2 separate regions of the Homo sapiens genome follow, and region 2 is linked to region 1. Evidence: fine-mapped expression QTL. A gene starts in region 1. The other region holds a variant in brackets. All regions are shown on one strand. Distances are between the middles of the regions. Region 1 holds the start of PPIC (peptidylprolyl isomerase C). Region 2 has its middle 21 kb from the start of PRDM6.

The links.
Region 2: its variant is fine-mapped to the expression of PPIC in tibial nerve (GTEx, PIP 0.98).

The regions. Positions count from the first base shown.
Region 1 is chr5:123,032,658-123,040,657 of GRCh38, forward strand. PPIC (peptidylprolyl isomerase C) reads right to left here and starts at 4,068. Exons shown (of 5, transcript NM_000943.5): 1 at 3,852-4,068. The coding sequence starts at 3,968. PPIC-AS1 (PPIC antisense RNA 1) reads left to right here and starts at 3,265. Exons shown (of 2, transcript XR_001742868.2): 1 at 3,265-3,631. RefSeq lists silencers at 2,764-2,936, 4,245-4,294.
Region 2 is chr5:123,062,822-123,074,360 of GRCh38, forward strand. It overlaps the pseudogene RN7SL711P. Among named protein-coding and RNA genes, the nearest start is that of PRDM6, 21 kb to the right of the region's middle. The variant A/G (reference allele first, on the strand shown) is at 7,006.

The DNA.
Region 1 (8,000 bases):
TGGGGTGGGGCTACAAAGCTCCTACCCTCAAGGAGCTTCAGTCCAACAGAAAACACATATATGAATGCTATAATATAATGAGAAGTCAGATTTTATAAGACAAGTACAGATAAGGTGTCATGGTAAGGGGTGGTGATTATCTGTGGAGATAAGTGTGGGCTTCCTGGGAAAGGTGATATTGGATTCCATGCTAGACTTTGGGGTGAGCACCTCAGTCACTTGTTTTTTCCCTCAAGGCTGCCCTTGAAAGTCATTTGAAAATTACTCGGCATTGGAGATGGGAGGAGGTAGAGGAAGAGGGAGGAGGCACTTACACAGCCTGACCCAAACCCCTGTGGAATTAATCCTGATTCCATTTCCAAAGTAACTAGGGAACACACCCAGTACATGAGCTGCGATGTGGAAGAAACTGTTCTCAAATGCAGCTCCACCACTCAATGGCCATGGAAACTTCAGCAAGTTAATTAAACTCTGAACTCCCTTTCTTCATCTGTAAAATAAATGATGATTCCTTTCAGGTCTGCTCTGTCACAGTAGGATTAAGAAGATAAACACAAATAACACTAACAAGTGACTTCTGAAATCAGGGACTATGGACTATGTGCTTTACCTGCTGCTATGGTTTGGATATTTGATCCTAATGTTGGAGGTGGGGCCTAATGCGAGGTGTTTGAGTCATGGGTGTAGATCCCTCATGAATGGCTTGGTGCCATCTCAGTAGTGAATGGGTTCTCACTTTGTTAGTTCCCATGAGAACTGGTTTTAAAAGGAAGCTGGCACCACCCCCTTCAGCTTCCTCTCTCTCCACGTGATCTGCACCTGCCTGCTCCCTATCACCTTCCGCCGCCGTGACTGGAAGCAGCCTGAGGCTGTCACCAGATGCCCAGTCTTGAATCTTACAGCTCATAGCAGAGCCGTGAGCTAAATAAACCTTTTTTCTTCATAAATTGCCCAGCCTCAAGTATTCTTTTATAGCAACATAAATGGACTAAGACATCTGCTTTACCACATCTAATGTGCAAAGCCCTCCCAGGTAGGGATGATTTCTATCTCCATTTGACAAAGGAGGAAACTGAGCTGTGGACATTAGATAACTTGTCTAAGGCCATCTAGCCACAGCCTCCTGGCCACTACATGCTAATGTGCTTGCAAGCTGTAATATGTGTGCAGCTGGAAGGATGGTGGCATTATTTCATACACTCCCGATGCCGGATCCTGCACAGATCCCATGGCATTGGTTCAGAAATATAGGTCAGCAAATGTAATTCTGTGGATTTGGAGCCCAATGAGCCAGAGCCCCCACCTGAGCCTCTATGGCTGGGGCAGGAAGCTGCCAGGCTGGCCCAGCAGCAGGATCTGTGGACCAAGTTAGTGCCACTAATGGGCCATGTGGGCAGAATAGCACCTCACACCTCTCTTATTTACAGATTCCTATTTTTAAATGAAATCAGAGGTAAACAAAAACACTGCTGGGGAAAACAATACACTAGAGCAATGGCCAATTAATGTACTTGTCTGCACTCAGAGAAATTATTTTTAACGTCATTTTCCAATAGATTTAGTTGTCTTTACAAGTTCATGAAAAAGTAATTTAACAGAGCAGAATCTGTTTAAGACGCACCTACACAATCAGCTTTTAGAAAAACTTAATGACAAATTTGGTAGGGGGAAAAAAGACATGTTAAGTAACAATTCTGAGAGTAGGGTGCATGCAAACTCTCCCTCAGTGACAGTGTCACAGACAAGGGTTTAGGATGCTCAAACCCTTCCCCTCCTGCAGCCACCAGCTTCCTCCTCTCTTGGCTCCATCTTCCAGTGGTTCCCCGCCCACACTGCCTGCACATCAGAATCACCAAAAGCTTCTAAAAGATAGGATACTGAGCCCCACCCATACAGATTGTGATTGACTTGCTCTGGGGTGGGTCACTGCATCAGTAAGTTTAAGAAGTTTCCCAGGTGAAACCTGTTCCCAAATATTGCAGGGGACGTACTTACACTAAAAACATTTATTCATTGTTAATCTGATATTCACATCTAACTGGGCATCCTGTATTTTATTTGGCAATCCTATTCCCTCTCCCTCGCCCCCTTTCTAAACCGTCAGCAACTCCTGTTAGTTATATCTCCAAAATCTATTTCAAGTCCTTCCCTTGCTCCCCATTTCAATGATTACCACCCTAATCCAAGCCACCATCTGGACTCTGGCATGGTGCCCTGAATGACCTCCCATTTCACTCTCCACTGAGTGACCACATAAATTTCTCGAGTATATATTGAGATCATGCCATTCTTATGCTTAAAACCCTTCAGTGGCTCTGACTGCAGAATAACACTTCAAATTTTAAGAATTGCCTCAATACCCGCATGCCTACCTGCAGCCTCTAAGGCCCTGTGTGATTCCGCTGCTGCTCACCCCTCCAACCTCATCTCAAGTCACCTCTCATTCTGTGCTGAAGCCATTCCGTCCTCTCCACATCCTCTGAATGCAGGGAGGGCTTTCCTGTTTGAGGACCTATGCATATGCAGTTCCCTTTGCCTCCTTAGTCTTCTCTGCGCTGGTTTTTCTCATTTTTCAGCTATTTTTAAATGTCACCCAAAGTATATTACAGTTTATTTCCTCCAACATTTCATAATTGTGCGAATTTTATGTTTATGGCTTTATCCCAAGAGACCCCGTTCAGCTCTGTGGCCTTGCACAAACCATTTCCCAAAGTTAGACATGCCTACAAGATCAAGAGGCTGGGAGTAAGATCAGAGCTTCTCGAAACCATCAGGCTGTTTATCAGCCCCGCCCACAACGTGGCACGGCCTTTCTGCGACATCAGATGCTGAGCTGGACCTCCTCCTCCCCACCCCCTAGTCCTCCCCGTCCTCAGGTGGCGTCTGCGGTCGAGGATGTAAGCATTCTACTCGTTGATTAGTATCGTTTCCATTGACAAACCCCAGACTGATGAAGACCACTTTCAGCTGCAGCCCGCCCCCTCCAGCTTCAGCTTCGAAGACACTATTGCCAGTGGGTTTTCTAGAAGTGGTGATCATGGGCACCAAATTATCCCCTCCCTCTCCCTGCATTCTCCCATTATCGTCTACCCTTGGTTAAATACGCTGAAAAAAGAACTGAAGCGGAGTTAAGTACGAGGAAGCCTTAAAGACGCACTTTCTGGCAGCCCCCCGCCCCCTTTCCCCGCAGTGGAGGCTGCCCCAGGTCTACAGGTGCCGCCTTCGCCCGGCCTCGCGTAGCCCACAGCAGGGGCCGCCCGCCCGCCGAAGTTGAAGGCGCACCTCCCCTTCCCGGGAAGGACGACGGTTCCCCAAAAGAGGCGGAGGGTAGTCTCTCATCTGAACCAGGCGCTTTAATGCCTGCCTGAAGCCACCGCGGCCAGCGTGGAGACCACGCAGCGGGCGGGCGGCTGCAAGCCCTGGGCTCCGAGCGCCTCTCCTGTGCGGGTCCCGCCCCCCTCCCCGCATTCCTCTCGTTCTGCTCCCGAGCCCAGGCCACGCTGAAGGAAGTACTTGGGCAGTCTCTTTCCTGGAGAACGGGCCCGCCGGTTCCGGAAGCCTCTCCTACCCCCAGGCTGGTCACCTCGGACTACCGACCCGGGACAAGAAGTCCAAGCAGACTGCGGCGGAGGTAGGCTGGCCTCAGCCCAGCTCCCCCAGGGTCTCCCCCGGAGCGCCGGCCTCCCAGCACGCGAGCAGCCCCCTCCCACCCAGTCCCGCGGCCGCCTCCAGTCCCCCTGCGCCCGGGAAGCCTCCACCTCGCCCGCCCTGACACCGAGGTCCCAGTATCCAAAGCGCCCCCAGGGCCCCGCCCGCAACAGGGGAAGTTGCAGCCCGCCGCTCTCGGTCACCTTGGCCGTCACCGAGGGGCCTCGCTTGCGGAAGCCCTCGGCCCCCGAAGAAAACACAAGTGCGCCGAGCCCCACGCAAAGCACGAGAGGTAGCAGCAGCCGAGGACCCGGGCCCATGGTGAGCGGTGGCAGCGGCGCTACCGGCACGGGCGCTACCGGCACGGGCGCGACACAGGCTCTGGGACAGCTGACGGGACTGCCGGCCGGCTGCGCCTGCGCGCTCCCGGTTGCGGGGGATGGGGATCGGGCAGTCCGGGAAGGGCGGGGACCCGGGGCGCGTTCCTCCCAAGTTCAGACTCGCGACCCGAACTTGGGATTCGGAGGAGCGCGCCCACAGGGCGCAGCCAGGGCTCGACCGCCGCGCCTTAGGCGGGTGCGGAGGGCGCCAGGGACGGGAGGGAGCCCGGGTTGCCCAGGCGCGGAGCCGGGCGCAGCGGGCTAGGCTGGGAGCACCTCCAGGAATTTACCGCGTAGGCGCGGATTAAACTTGGACGGGAAGACCAGGACTCTCGGGCTTCCGCGTCCGCCCGGCAGCTAGCGCTCCGCGGGACTGGGAACTCTGCAGCCGGTCCCGGTGTGATTGCTGCCGCCTTGGGAGCAGCCTCCGCCGCGGCCGCCGAGTTCCAATGGCCCATTGGAACCTTTTGCTAGGTTTTGGACGCTTAGCAGAACTTTGACATCGCTGGAGGCGTGGAGCCCTGTTGCACTCGAATAATGGCCTCTCTTTGAGATGATTCACGTCTAGGGAACACTGGAAAATGCTGGATTCACAGTGCCCCTTTGCCTTCGAAAAACTTTTACATTGGCTTTAAGTACTTTATTTGGAGGATGATTCTGTGATCTTATCTACACTGTTCACAAGGCAGCACTTACACAGGCCCAGAACCATGGTCATGTAGGATTCTTTCCTGGGGAAACAAAGTAAATAAACTGACTTTTAGGTGTATCTGTAGGATGGATTTTTTACAAACTTAAGAATTATGTTTAGGAAGATTAATGACTGGGGAAGTAAGTTCTTATTATATTTTTAAATGGAAAATTCGGGTTGCAAAACCACAAATTCTGATCTCAACCGTGAAAATAAATATATCAAGGCACTTAAATATTGAAAGAGATGTACCACAACGTTTACAGTAGCTATAGATAGAATTGATAGCTATTGATAGACTTATGGATTTTTGAGGGTTTAAAAAAATTTTTTTTACAGTTTTCTGATTTCCCAGATGTTCTACAATGAGCATATAAGTATTTTATAACATGGAAAGGGTTATTTTAAAACTCATTGCTTTTTGAATTAGAATTTCAAAAGAACTTTTTTGTTTTAGAGTAACAGCCCTAAAATTAACTAAAAATTAGTGGTATTCGCACATAGGTGCCATTTTAAGGGGCTGGTGCCATTACTTTCAAGCCAAGATTTTCCTCGGATTAAGAGATGGAATTTCTAAATGTCAGATGGGATTCCTAGGTGTACCTAAGTGTAGATCTAAAATGACATTGGAACCATTAGAGATAAAAGGAGTAACCACTACTTCTTTGGGGTGAGAAAAAGGAGAAATGCAATTCTGAGCTATTTTTATGATTCAGTCCAGTGAAAGACCTAATGGCTTTCCTCTTCATCCCCACCCCCAATAAGGAAAGAGTCCCCCTTGTGTAGCAAGACAAGGGTATCTCTCAGAGCACTTACCCTACGAGGTGACTGTGAGGTGATTGTATATATTTATCTGTGTTCATTAATTGTTTTTGTCTGTCTGCTATCAGAAGTAAGCAGGGCCAGGGCAGGGATCAGGCCTATATTTATTCCCCTTTGATGACCCAGATCTAGTGCAATGCCTGATATATAGTGATTTCTCAATAACTATTTGTTGAATGAATGAATGTGTCCAACTACTTTTTATGCTACCACCATCTCACCCTCTAGGCAAAGAAATGAAATCTTTCCCAGCTCCCTAGAAACTCCTCTTATACCCTCTGCCAGTTACAAACACTTTTTTCTGCCCAAATTAACTGCAATCCTGACTTTTCTTGTACTATAGTTTAATTTTGTTTTAATTTTATTTGAATAGGGTATTACCGTATGTATTTCTTTTTGCTTAAATTTTTGTGAAATTCATCTATATTTTTGCATATAACTATTTTGGTGGCTAATACAAAGTAGGAAGCAAATTCATTTTTTTCATAAGAATATTCATTTATTTCAGTACAGTTTATTGAAAATTCTCCCCTTTAACTCACCGCTCCATACTGTTCTTCTGTCACAGAGCAAGTGCCCATGTATGCATAGGTGTGTTTGTGGGCACCCTATCTGTCCCATTGGCCTATTTGTCTGTCTTTGTGCCAATACTACATTGTCTTCATTAAAATAGCTTTATAATAACTCTTCATATTCAGTAATACATACCCTCTTAGCTTTGTTCAACAAATTCTTGGCTGTTCTTGAGCTTTTCCATGTCCATATAACTTGAGAATCAGCCTGTCAGTTTCCACACACTGAGATTTTGATGGGGATTGCACTGCATCTGTAGACCATTTAAGACTTGGCAAATTTACAATATTGAGTCTTCTAATTCATGAACATAGCATATTTAAGTCTTCTTTGGTTTCTCTCAATAAGATTTTATAGCTTTCTGCCCAGAGGTCTTACACGTATTTTATTAGTTTGATTTCTAAGTGTTTTTTTATGCTATTGTCATGTATTGTAGTAAAATTAATTTATATATTAACTTTGTATATACCAACCTTGTTAAACATATTCTAATAATTTATCTGTGAATTGTTTAGGATTTTCTCCATAGACAATTATGTCATCCATGAATAATGACAGTTTTATTTCTTCTTTTCTAATCTTTACATTTTGTATTTCTTTTTTGGCCTTTTTACACTGGCTGGGATCTGCAGTACAAAAGGAAGTGGCAACAGTGGGAGTCCTTGTATTGTAGACTGAATTATCCTCCAAAAAGATATATTGAAGTCCTAAACCTTGGTATCTGTGAATGTGACCTTATTTGGACTGCCTTTGCAGACGTAATCAAGTTAAGATGAAATCATACTGGAGTAGGGTTTGCCCTACTCTAATATGACTTGTGTCCTCATAAAAAGGGAACAGACACAGACACACGCACAGAGAACACCATATGAGGATGGAGGCAGAGATTGGAGTGCTGTATCTACAAGACAAGGGATGCCAAAGATTGCTGGCAACCCCCAGAAGCTAGGAAGAGGCAAGGAAGGATTTGCCCCTAGAGCCTTCAAAGACAGCATGGCCTTGCCAACACCTTGATCTCAGCTGCTAGTTTCCAGAACTGTGAGACAATGCATTTCTCTTGTTTGAAGTCACCCAGTTTGTGGCACTTTGTTACAGCAGCCCTAGGGGGCTCATACACCTTGTCTTGGTCCCAGTGTCAGAGGGAAAGCTTCAGTGTTTCACCATTAGGCATGATATTTGCTGAAGGTCCTTTTGGGGGATATCTTTTTTCAGATTCAGAAAATTCCTTTCTAGTCCTTGTTTGCTAAGAGTTTTTAGCATATATTTGATTTAAATTTTATTAACATCATCTATTGAAATCAATTGAAATAATTATGTGATTCTCTTACTCTGTTAATGTGATGAATTGCATTGATTTTCAAATCTTAACCCAAGCTTACATTCTGGAATGTGTCCAACATGGATTATCCTTTTTATATATTACTAGATGTGGTTTGGCAATATCAGTTTATTAACAAAGTTGCCAAAAACTGAATATAGACTATCTTCTGAAGTTCAGGAAGAAAAGAGTGGGTAAAATGTGGCTCTGGCTGTCCAGCTGAGACTGAGTTCGTCACCCACATGTCATTTCAGTGTTAGTGGGTAAATCTGCTAATCTTATTTTCAGGATATTTGCATCTAAATTCTTGAATGAGACTAGCCTGAAATTTTCCTTTATTGGAGTTTCCTCTCAGCTTTTGTATTAGAGTTGTTCTGGCCTCTTAATATGAGTTGGCAAATGGTAGCTGTTTTTCCCCTACTCTTAAAGGGTTTGTGTAAGATTACCATTTCTTCCTTGAATGTTTCTTAGAAGCCATCTGAGCCTGGAGTTTTCTTTATTGTAACATTCTAAATTATATATTTAACTTTTAAAATAGTTGGAGATTATTCAAATTCTCTATTCTGTT
Region 2 (11,539 bases), 32 kb after region 1:
AGCTGTTACTATTTTACTTTCTAAACTATGAATGTGCCTCACTTAGATTGAAAACAAAATTTTATTTAAAGATGTAAAGAAAGGGGAAAAAAGGACTCATGGTCCAGTTATATTCTACCAGTAACTAGTTACATGACCCTGGGCAAACCCTTAACCATAGAGGATAACAGGGTTCTGGACTGTTGTATGAAGAAAGTTCAATTATTTCAAGTTAAAAATCATTGATTCTCTGATCAGACACAGGCTTATTTATTTTTTCAAACTTTGTCTTTCATTACTTTAAATTTATGTGTCTAAAAGTCCAAAACTATTTCCAGATTATCAAATTGCACTGACTAGAAAGGTAATTTTCAATGAGGATAACTTTAGCTGTTTATTTCACAAAAATTTGCACATGTACTCAGATTTATCTTCCTCACCATCCAACAAGAAAACCTGGTCTTCTAGATTCCTAGTCTCTAACATGGAAAAAAATATGGAGCACGTGGAACAAAAATAGCTCGAATGTAGGATCACTTGGGGAATAACTTGGACTTACACAGTTACATGAAAAATCTCCAAAGTCATATTCGCCAGAATTACATCCAAGAACAACGTTTTATTTAGCAGCTAACTGAGATGAATAGCAGCTTCAGTAGCTCTAAGCAAAGGCTCTATTCATCAAATTTAAGGACACAGGCAAAGGAAATTGATTCATTTCTGGACCTGATTGAGTTTCCACAGTTAGATGCATTGGAGGGAGACACGACCTGAATGCTCCAATTCTGTGGTTAGTGCCTGCATGTAATCTGGTCTGGAGCACCCCACCCTTGTGTCCTCAAGTCCAGCCAGGCTCACCACATGGAAGACACTCTTATCGCCATGCTACTTTTGGGATAACCAATGAAATCTTTAACAAAACGTGTGATCTTTCAGCGAAAATACAACTTTCCCTAGGAGACGCCTGTATATATGAAATAGGAGATGCATGAAATATTGGAATATCTTATGAAGAGCAGGGCTCAGCTTGGTACCTTGCACTTTGTTGGTGCCCTGTCATGCTTGTTGACTCAAAGGCGTCTTGTTAAATGTATTGTTTGCCACTGTTACAGGATTTATTTTCACCTTCCTCCCCATAATCTTGAAAATCTAGTTGAGAGCCAGAAGTTTCTTCTCCCGTGGCATGTTCTCACCACCACTTCTATAGGTCTTTAGAGCCACTTGATCACTGGTTCAGTGTCTTAACCAAACTGTTAGAGTCTAAGCTCTGTGAAGGCACGGGACAAGTCTGTCTCATTCACACTCCGTAAGGCAAGGCCAATAGCGGTTGCTTAGAAAATACTTGTTAGAGGAGCATTCATCCACCCTGCAATCCAGGCTTGGTTCTGGTTTTCTATTCTCAACATCCAGGAGACTTGCTTGATGTTGGGATGCTAGGTTCCTTAGTTAAGTCATTAATTTTGGTGTTTAAGCCTTGTCCTTAAATTCAAAGGGCACTGGGTTTGAGCCACAATTTGACCAATTAGCAATGGGACCTCAGACAATTTACTTAAACTCTGTGAGCCTTAGTATCTTCATCTCTAAAAAGGAGGTGATAATAACACCTTCTTCACAAGATTTTGGTGATAATTAAATAAGATTTTTATATTTATATATGTGCCAGAACCATATACATAGTGTCTAGGACAGAATCTAGCATATCATAAGTACTCAATAATGTTAGATCTTTTCTGTTTACTACCCAAGTTACTGATGCATATAATTCCTTGGACATAGTAATAAAGGGCTGAAAACTATTTTTAATAGTCCAAAAAGACTAATAGAATTATTATATTTACTTACAATAATATTAACTAAAATGTTAAGTTATTTTGGGAAATGTATTAACATATCCCATGCTTGCAAGCAGTCTTTCTTGGTGCATACACATCTTAGATTAATTAAAAATAGGAAAATGAACTATTTATATATGTAACTTGGTATATAAAAACCCAGATGTGGAGTTCATGAGGTGTCCTTGGTTACTTAGGATTCCAAGAAGTCCGTTTTTAAATTTTTTATTTTATTTTAGATTCAGGGGTACATGTGCATGTTTGTTACATGGATGTGTTACATACTGGTGGTGATTGGGCTTCTGGGGTGCCCATTACCCAAATAGTGAACATTGTGCCCAACAGATAATTCAACCCTCACCCTCCTTGGTTATTTCCAACCACCTGTTTTGACCCTGGCTTCCAACTCCAGAATCGTGATGGATTTACAGAATTTTGGGGACTGACGTGTTTGCTACTGGACAATTGTAGTGTGTTTAGTAATAAAACAGAACCAGTATCATAACAATAACATTACATATTCTGAATGGACTGAACTATTATAATTTTGCCTGAAACTCATGACAACTGCATATATTTAGTCTGTGTTCAAGAATTTTATTGCTAATTACCAAATAGTACAAAATGAATAATTGTTACCAAAAAAAAAAAATTTGCCAGGTGCAGTAAGGCTTTGGTTATTAGATGGCAAGAATGTTACAGTGGCATGAAATGACTATGACATTATCAAGAAAAATGGATTTATATTTGAATAGTCTAGACTACTTGTAAAATCCTATAAAACCCTCAACTCTCTTGTATTTTACCCTAAAAAGTATTTCAAGAAATTATCAGCTAGCATACTTTGGAGAGATAGTATAGAGATATAAAGTCAGAGAAGAGTAACTACTTACCAGTCTCATAAATATGCTATAAAACTGTAATTATTTCATCAGACTTTACTTCTTTATAACCAAATTTCTTTGAGACTGCTTATGTTATTCAAGAAACAAAGAGAGAAAGAGAAACTTGATCTTTTGTTAGTATTTCCTAACTAAACATTAAGCCATTGCAACCATGGAGTAAGTCCTATTTATGTTTTCTTAAACTAAAGATGTTTTAATATCCCCCTGTATTTTTATCATTACTTTGTTGAAAATATTGTGAAAACCTGCTGTATTAGTCCATTTTCACACTACTGATAAAGACATACCTGAGACTGGGCAATTTACAAAAGAAAGAGGTTTATGGGACGTACAGTTTCACATGGCTGGGGAGGCCTCACAATCATGGTGGAAGGCAAGAAGGAGCAAGTCAAATCTTCCATGGATGGCAGCAGGCAAAGAGAGCTTGTGCAGAGGAACTCCTCTTTTTAAAACCATCAGATCTCACGAGACCCACTCACCATCACAAGAACAGCATGAGAAAGACCCACCCCCATAATTCAATCACCTCCCACTGGGTCCCTCCCAGAATACATGGGAATTGTGGGAGTTAAATTCAGGATGAGATTTGGGTGGGGACACAGCCAAACCATATCACCTGCTTCAAGGAGAACTTATACACCACAAATACTCATGTGTCACTTGTGCCTGTTGGGCATAGAAAATGACTCACATTTCTGTCACTCATATGTAAAGAATTTATGATGTATGTTTTAATCTTCCTTGCCTAAGATCACTTCTACAGTGAGACTTGACATTATAGATGAAATTTTTTAAATGCTGCCTTCTTGTCTGAATAAAAGTGATCTATTGCAATCCTTTGATTACAATATATAAATTAAAAATAGAAAGTTGTGGCTGGGTGTTGTGGCTCACGCCTGTGATCCCAGCACTTTGGGAGTCTGAGGCAGGAGGATTGCTTGAGTTTGGAAGTTCAAAACCAGCCTGGGCAACATAGCAAGACCCTGTTTCTACAAATATATATAAAACTAGCCAGGTGTGGTGGTGCACATCTGTAGTCCCACCTACTTGGGAGGCTGAGGCAGGAAGATCGCTTGAGCTCAGGAGTTCGAGGCTGCAGTAAGCCATGATTGGGCTACTGCACTCCAGCCTGGGTGACAGAGTGAGATCATGTCTCAAGAGAAAATGAACAAAATAGGCAGTTGTGAGTACACTTATCACAACTTGGATTTTGTAAAAGTATGAAAGGGAGCTTTCAGTTTTCTTACTGAGTATACATTTTAATGACTATTAGCTCAATAATGATAATATCTAGCATTTTATATCACTTTTACATGACATAATTATACCAAACAATATCTCATCTTTTTCCTACAATAATCATATGAAGCAAGTGGTACAAATATTATTAGTCTTGCTTTGCGATGAGGAAATTGAGACTTGGAATTTAAATTGCTTGCCTATAGTGAAGTGGCTAATAAGCACTAAAGTCAGGACTCAATGTCTGGTCCTCTTACTCCTAGTTCTGTAATTTTCCCCTTTTTAAAAAAGACTGAGATGAAATTCACATAACATAAAATTAACCATTGTAAAATGTACAATCCAGTGACATTTAGTATATTCACAATATTGTGCATTCATGACCTCTATCTAGCTCCAAAACATTTTCATCATCCCTAAAGAAAACTCCATACCCATTAAATAGTCATCTCCCCATCCCCTTTCTCTGGCCCCTGGTAATCACAAATCTGCTTTCTGTTTCTATGGTTTTGCCTTTTCTGGATATTTCATAAAAATGGAATTATATAATATGTGACCTTTTGCATCCGGATTCCTTTACTTAGCAGAAGGTTTTCAAGGCTCATCTACACGGTAGCATGTATCAGTACTTCATTTCTTTTTATGAGTGAGTAATATTCTATTTTATACATGTGTACATATCACACTTTCTTTGTCCAGTGATGAACATCTGGATTGTTTCTAGTTTTTGGTTATTGTCAACAGTGCTGCTATATACAAGTATTTGAGTGCCTGTTTTTTGTTCTTCTGGGTAGAGTCCTGGGGTAGAGTTTCTGAGTCATTTGGTAATTCTATCTTTAACTTTTTGAGGGACCACCAGCCTATATTCCATAGTAGCTACACCATTTTACATTCCCACCAGAAATGGATGAGGGTTCCAATTTCTCTAAGGCTCACCAACTTGTTACTTTGCATTTTGTGTGTTTAAAAAATTATAGCCATCCTAGTGCTTGTGAAGTTCTATCTCATTGCATTGTAGTTTTGATTTGCATTTCCCTGTTGACTAATGTTGATTATCTTCTCATGTGCTTGTTGGCCATGTGTGTATCTTCTTTAGGGAAAATGTCTATTTAAGCCCTTTGCTCATTTTTTATTGGGTTGCTGTATTTCTTTTTTTTTTTTTTTTAAAGAAATTATATTTTCTCCTCCTAAAATTCCACAGTGTGCCTTTGGAAAATTTACCTTCTTGCTCCATAACTGTATAGTTATGCAAGAAAAATGTAGTTATCACATTCTTGAGATTCTTTGATATTGTAGAGCTCTGTGTGTGTGTGTGTGTGTGTGTGCGCGCGCGCGCGCGCACGCGCGCGTGTGTGGTGTGGTGTGGAGTTATCTTTATCTATGAGTAGATATAGAAATTACCACAGGAGGTGAGTTCCATGGGCGGAATGGATAACCTAAGATGCAAAGGGTGAGATTATCCATTTGTCCATCATGGTGGTGCTGTCCTTAGGCTGGGGAAGTCGCTCAGATGACAAGCCAGGCTGAACGGCAGGGACAATGGCAGGTGTGAGAATGTGGGCGCTATTTAACTTGGGCCAGGAGGAAGAGTAGTTGACTGATGTGCTGCCCTGTGTCAGAGAATAACGTGGCACCTGCTTTGGAGTAAAAGGTAAGATGCAGGTGTCAGTGGGAGTGAGAGTAAGGGAGAAAGCCAGACACACTACTAGCTGGAACAGCCTCCTTGGCCAGAGAGTATGATCTTGGGCCAGACAATTCTCTAAGGAAGTCTTAATAATTTTTATGGTGTTTGTATTTTGAGTAACAATTTCCTTTTTGTCTGTCTTGGCACTGAGTACTGCTCTTTGTGAAAACACCAGTCTGTCTCAGGTATGCTAGGGAGAATACAGAAAAGGGTTCTGGGCAATATTTGGTAGTGGGGAGGCAGGATGCTCCCAGAGCCAAGTGAGGGGGTGGCTACAGTGGAAATAAGGATGAGAAGACACCAGAGGAAGGAAGAGATTTCCTCTGGGACCCTCCCTGACATCCTTTATGTTTGGCCCTCAGAAGGTTGGATGTTCTTTTGCAAATGTGACTGGACAATACTTTGAGATGGTAATTTACAGACTTTTCTCTTCCCATATTTCCCCTCTTTGCCTCCTTCCTTTCAATCAGATAGTTGGCAGTCATCCATAATCTCAGGAGAAGACAGCAAACTGGCCAAAAAGCAAAAGCAGATGGTAAGTTACTTGTTTTGTGCTCTAAATGCCTATATCTTTAGGGACACAATAGATTCTGGGTTTGAACAGAATGTTTGGGAGAGGGAGGAGCTTTCCTCTAAACGTGAAAAAGATTTTCCTGGGTCACGGTGGGGTAGAATTAAGGAGGTACATGGGTGTGAATGCAGACAGAAGTGGAGGTCCAAAAGGGGCCTTCACCATGCTTTCCAGTAGATCCTGGATGCAGTGAGGCCCCAGGGAGTAAACGGGTGTGTGGGAGGTGCAAGGACAAATGGTCCCCCCAAAACGTTCACGTTCTAATTCTCAGAACTGTGTTACCTTATGTGGCAAAAAGAGACTTTACAGATGTGATTACGTGAAAGATCTTGAGGTGGGGAAGTATCCTGGAATACCCAGATGGACCTGATGTGATTCCAACGCCCCTTATAGGAGGGAGGCTGGAGAGCAGAATCAGTGAAGGAGTCGTGATGATGCTGCCCTGCTGGCTTGAGGGGTTCCAGCCAAGGAGTGCAGGTGGCCTCTAGAGGGTGGGAAAAGCAAGTTAAACGCATTCTCCTCTAGAGCTTCCAGAAGGAACCAGCTCTACTGACACCTTAATTTTAGCCCATAGGACCCATAAAGGAAGTAATCGTTCTTGCACACTGGGCTTGGGGGCTGAAATTCCTACTCTCTACACACCAATGTTTTCACTTCTGCTTCAGGGGAGGGCATCCACTGTGGGCCACATGCTTTATACATGCTTGTTCTAGTTCATCTTCACAACCCAATGAGGTAATATCCCCATTATCAATTTAATTTATTCCTGAAAATGTGCCAGATAGAGCATTATTG[A/G]AATGGGCTTATTCAAAAATAAATTGCAATCAATTTGGTCCAATTATCACCAAACGTCTCTTTTTTCTTTTTTTTTTTTTTTTGATGGAGTCTCACTCTGTTGCCCAGGCTGGAGTGCAGTGGCATCATCTTGGCTCACTGCAGCCTCCGCCTCCTGGGTTCAAGTGATTCTCCTGTCTCAGCCTCCCGAGTAGCTGGGATTACAGGTGCTCACCACCATGCCTGGCTAATTTTTTTGTATTTTAGTAGAGACGGGGTTTCACCATGTTTGTCAGGCTGGTCTTAACTCCTGACCTCAAATGATCCGCCCGCCTCAGCCTCCCAAAGTGCTGGGATTGCAGGCATGAGCTATCGTGCCCAGCCACCACCAAACATCTTAAACATCTATGTAACAATCCACCAAGGATTTCCACATCATATTAAAGTATTCAGAACACCCATCATCTAATTATTAAATACATCAGTGAGTATTTTGTGGGTATTGTACTATATAGTATTAATACCAATTAAATTTTTCTTCTACACTGTAGAGAATTGTAATGCAGACTAACAACATGCATGTATGTTAAAGATACACAACAAATGCAAATAACACAAACAAAATGCAGTTCTCTAGGGAGAATGGCTGAGCTACAACTATGATGTTTTCTACTTCCTCTAGCTTAGGCTCCTGTGTGAAACATAAACTTTTTCTCTGTTGTGCCCATGAGAATTCCTTCAAACTTGGGCGACCATATAATTCACGGTCAAGTTGGCACAGTTTTTGTGAGTGAAAGGAGAGCAGTTAGTAATTACATTGCGGCTGAGTACAGTGGCTCACCTCTGTAATCCTAGCACTTGGGAGGCTGAGGTGAGAGGATAGGATAGCTTGAGGCCAGAAGTTTGAGACCAGCCTGAGCAACATAGCAAGACTCTTGTCTCTACAAGAAAGAAACAAAAGAAAACAAAAAAACTCACCGGGTGTGGTAGTGTGTGCCTGTAGTCCCAGCTACTCGGGAGGCTGAGGTGGGAGGATCGCTTGAGTCCAGGAGTTCTGGGCTATAGTGCACTTTGTTGATCGGGTATCCACACTAAGTTCGGCAACAATATGGTGACCTCCAAGGAGCAGGGGGCTCCCAAGTTGTCTAAGGAGGGGAGAAGCAGCCCAGTTGGGAAACAGAACAGGCCAAAACTCCCGCGCTGATCAGTAGTGGGATTGTGCCTGTGAATAACCATTTCACTCCAGCCTGGGCACCATAGCAAGACTGCATCTCTAAAATATAAAAAAAATAAAAATACTTAGCCAGATGTGGTGACATATGCTTGTTGTCCTTCCTAGCTACCGGGGAGGCTGAGGTGGGAGGATGGCTTGAGCCCACGTTATGAGGTTATGGTGCGCTATGGTCATGCCACTGTATTCTAGCCTGGGCGACAGAATGAGACCCTGTCTCTAAAAATTAATAATTATTGATTAATTAATAATTACCTTGGTATAATAGCTGAAACTGGAATTGTCTAGGGCAAAGTGGGATGTTAAGGAATTTGGAAGATTAATATGTCTTTATGCATTTTGCTCTCACCTTGTTTTTGCCAGATCCTAAACTGTGAAGTCTTCTCTTTCCTTTTCCCTAACTTTAAAAAATTTTACATTTTCTAAAATGCAATATATTCTTGTCATTTAAAAAAGCCATGTTTTGTTTTCACCACACACAAGAAAGGTTACTTGTGAGACAATGAAAGTGTTAATTAGCTTGATGGTGGTAATCACTTGACGAGGTATACATATATCTGATCATCACATTGTACACCTTAAATATATACAAGTTTTATTTGTCAATTATACCTCAATAAAACTAGGGGGGAAACCCCACATCTAGCATGAGCCAGATACCTTGTACATTACTTAATTTTCCTGACTTGGTGAAGGACCCGTCCAGATACTGTTGTGCAGTCTACCCTTGATAGTCACTAGACTGTGCACACCTTTGAGCAAGTGCTGCTCCTATTCATCTTGGTGACCCTGTATCTCAGAGTGCCAGGCACAGAGATGGTACTCAACCACATGTTTGTTGAATGAGGGAACACCATATGTGAGAAAGAGACAAATTTCACCTCCTTTACTAATTGGATGTGCTAATCTACTTTAGAATGTTTCCTTTTTCTCTCTAGATTGCCACATGGAATTACATATTTTTTCCTAATATTGCCTTGGTAACCTCTGCTGGTACCTGTTCTAATATGTTAGCATGTGGCTCATCCTTCTATCTAAAGCTGTGGCTACTCTGTGGACCTTATAACAAAGAGAGTGTGAACTTCACATTAAATGTGATTCGAAGCTTCTAGATTCCATGTACATATTCAGCTATAGAAGCACCTCCTAAACATGGATGGAAATGCCTTAACACATGTCAGATGAGATTACAGCTCAGATTCCATGCAGGATCAACACACTGCCCTGCTATCTGGTGAAACTGTGCTAGTTTTTATAGTAAGAAAATAGTCTAATGAAGCTCTTGATCCATGAAGAGTATAAGTGTGCTCTACGAAGAGAAATTGTGAGTAATTCATGACCCAAGTCTAGGATAAAATATGGATCATTAAAACCAGCATGCCTCAATCTGAGCTTTCAATACTTAGAACTTTGGAATCACAAATATTGGATCGTTATCATTTTTGAGCAAGCAAGCTTTAAGCATTTCTAATCCTAGTTTTTCAGGGGAATTGTTTATAGAAAACTCCCTCTTAACTTTGCTAGGTAATTGGATGTGCTAACCTACTTTAGAATGCTTCCCTCTTCTCTCTAGGCTACCATATGGAATTCTAAAGACACACATTCTCCTTTCTCAAATCTCTCATTTTGCCCACCATTAATTTAATTTTGATGGTAGAGGTCTACCCTGAATATTATATAATATGTATTGCATTTCAATACAGACAAAGAGGTGAGGATGAAGAATTTCAGCTCATTTTTTTTTAAATCTGAGGCTAAAATAAAAACAAGAAAATGTCAGAAGGACCATTAAAGACTTTCTTTCTGTCAAGCTCATAGATGCTTGAATAGCCTCTATCCGTCTCAAAGACCCTAGATGGGGAACAGTTATGTAGCATGTTTGTTGGTACTTCAGATGGAAAAGAAGGACACTCATTTAGGATGCCTTAAACAGCCCTGCCCCACCGAGGCTAAAATGTCTTTTAAGAAACAACTCTAGAGAATGGGACACCTTATTGTTTCTTCAAGAGCTGGCATCTTTCTATGCCTCACTTTTCTACTGTGCTACTATGAGGTGCGTCAACTTCTTGCTTTCTTCTTCCAAAGAACCTGCTCTTATGGACCCAGAGACTCTATCCCCAAATCACATTACCCAAGAGAAAAAATCTGATTGGTCAGTCAATCCCCGCCAGCACAGAGTTTGCCTCTAGGCAGAGATCTTAGACAAGGTCACCTAGTCATGTGTAGATAGTTGTGATTGGGTTAACCTCCCATTCTTGGTCAACTTAGCTGTGGCCAGTGTACTGGTTTTAAATGATACACTTATATGTTACACCTGCTGGTAACAAACTCCTCACAAGGGAGGCCATGGGAATGGTAGGCACACTGAAGTTTCCCAGCCCCTGGCATTCTGTTCCTTTGGATAAGTGAGAGGAGTTCTTTGATTTTTGTCACCACTCATTTCTTTCTTCATTAAACTTCCATCTGCCCTGGTCTACCATATTCCCCACTCCACTCCAATCCCATAACATCCAGTGGTGAAGCTTTCCCTTCTGAGTGTGTATATTTGTTCATGTTTGACTCAGAAATCTGGAAATTGAGTGTATTAAATAAATAAAAGTTTCCTCCATTCTTCCAGGAGCTGATGTAGCTTACGTTATTTCCAAACTCTGTATTCCATGTAGAATTCATGAAAGCCATGTAGTTCAAAATTAATTTGATTATTCTCTCAGGTTATCTGGGGCTTTGCTAGGACCAGCCAAGTTCCCATTTCTTTCGTTTGTGTCGATCAGATCACATAATGTTTTATACTTTCATTTCTTGGCCCCATGATTACACACCATGGAGCTCATTTAGAATGTCCTGGCGTTGCTCCTGTGTGAGATATGAGTGCATTCTGCGAGTCCACAGACGTGTGCTGGCATTTCTTATTAAAGAGAAAATGGACCACACACTTCTGGCTTGTGCTTACAAAGTCTGAATGGAAATTATTAGACCATAGGGAAGACTTGCAAGAGATAATGGTAATGTAGTAATTTTATCAGTTCATTCCATCTGAGAGGAAGAATCTCTTAATTTTCCTTCCTTCATTGGAAGAACTGTTTATGAACGTATAGTTCAATGACTCCAAAGAGCTGTGTGAGGGCTCCATGGGGGTCTCACGGGCAGAAACCCTTAGCTTCAGAAAGGACTTAGGAGTATAAACAGACACTAATGCAGAAATAATTCAATGTGTAGCTATTTATGACTGGCATCAGGAAAGACAGTGAGCCCTGTATACATAGGCAGGGTGCAAGAATGCACTCTCTTAAAACACAGAGGGCAGGTGGACTCAAACTCTCTAGG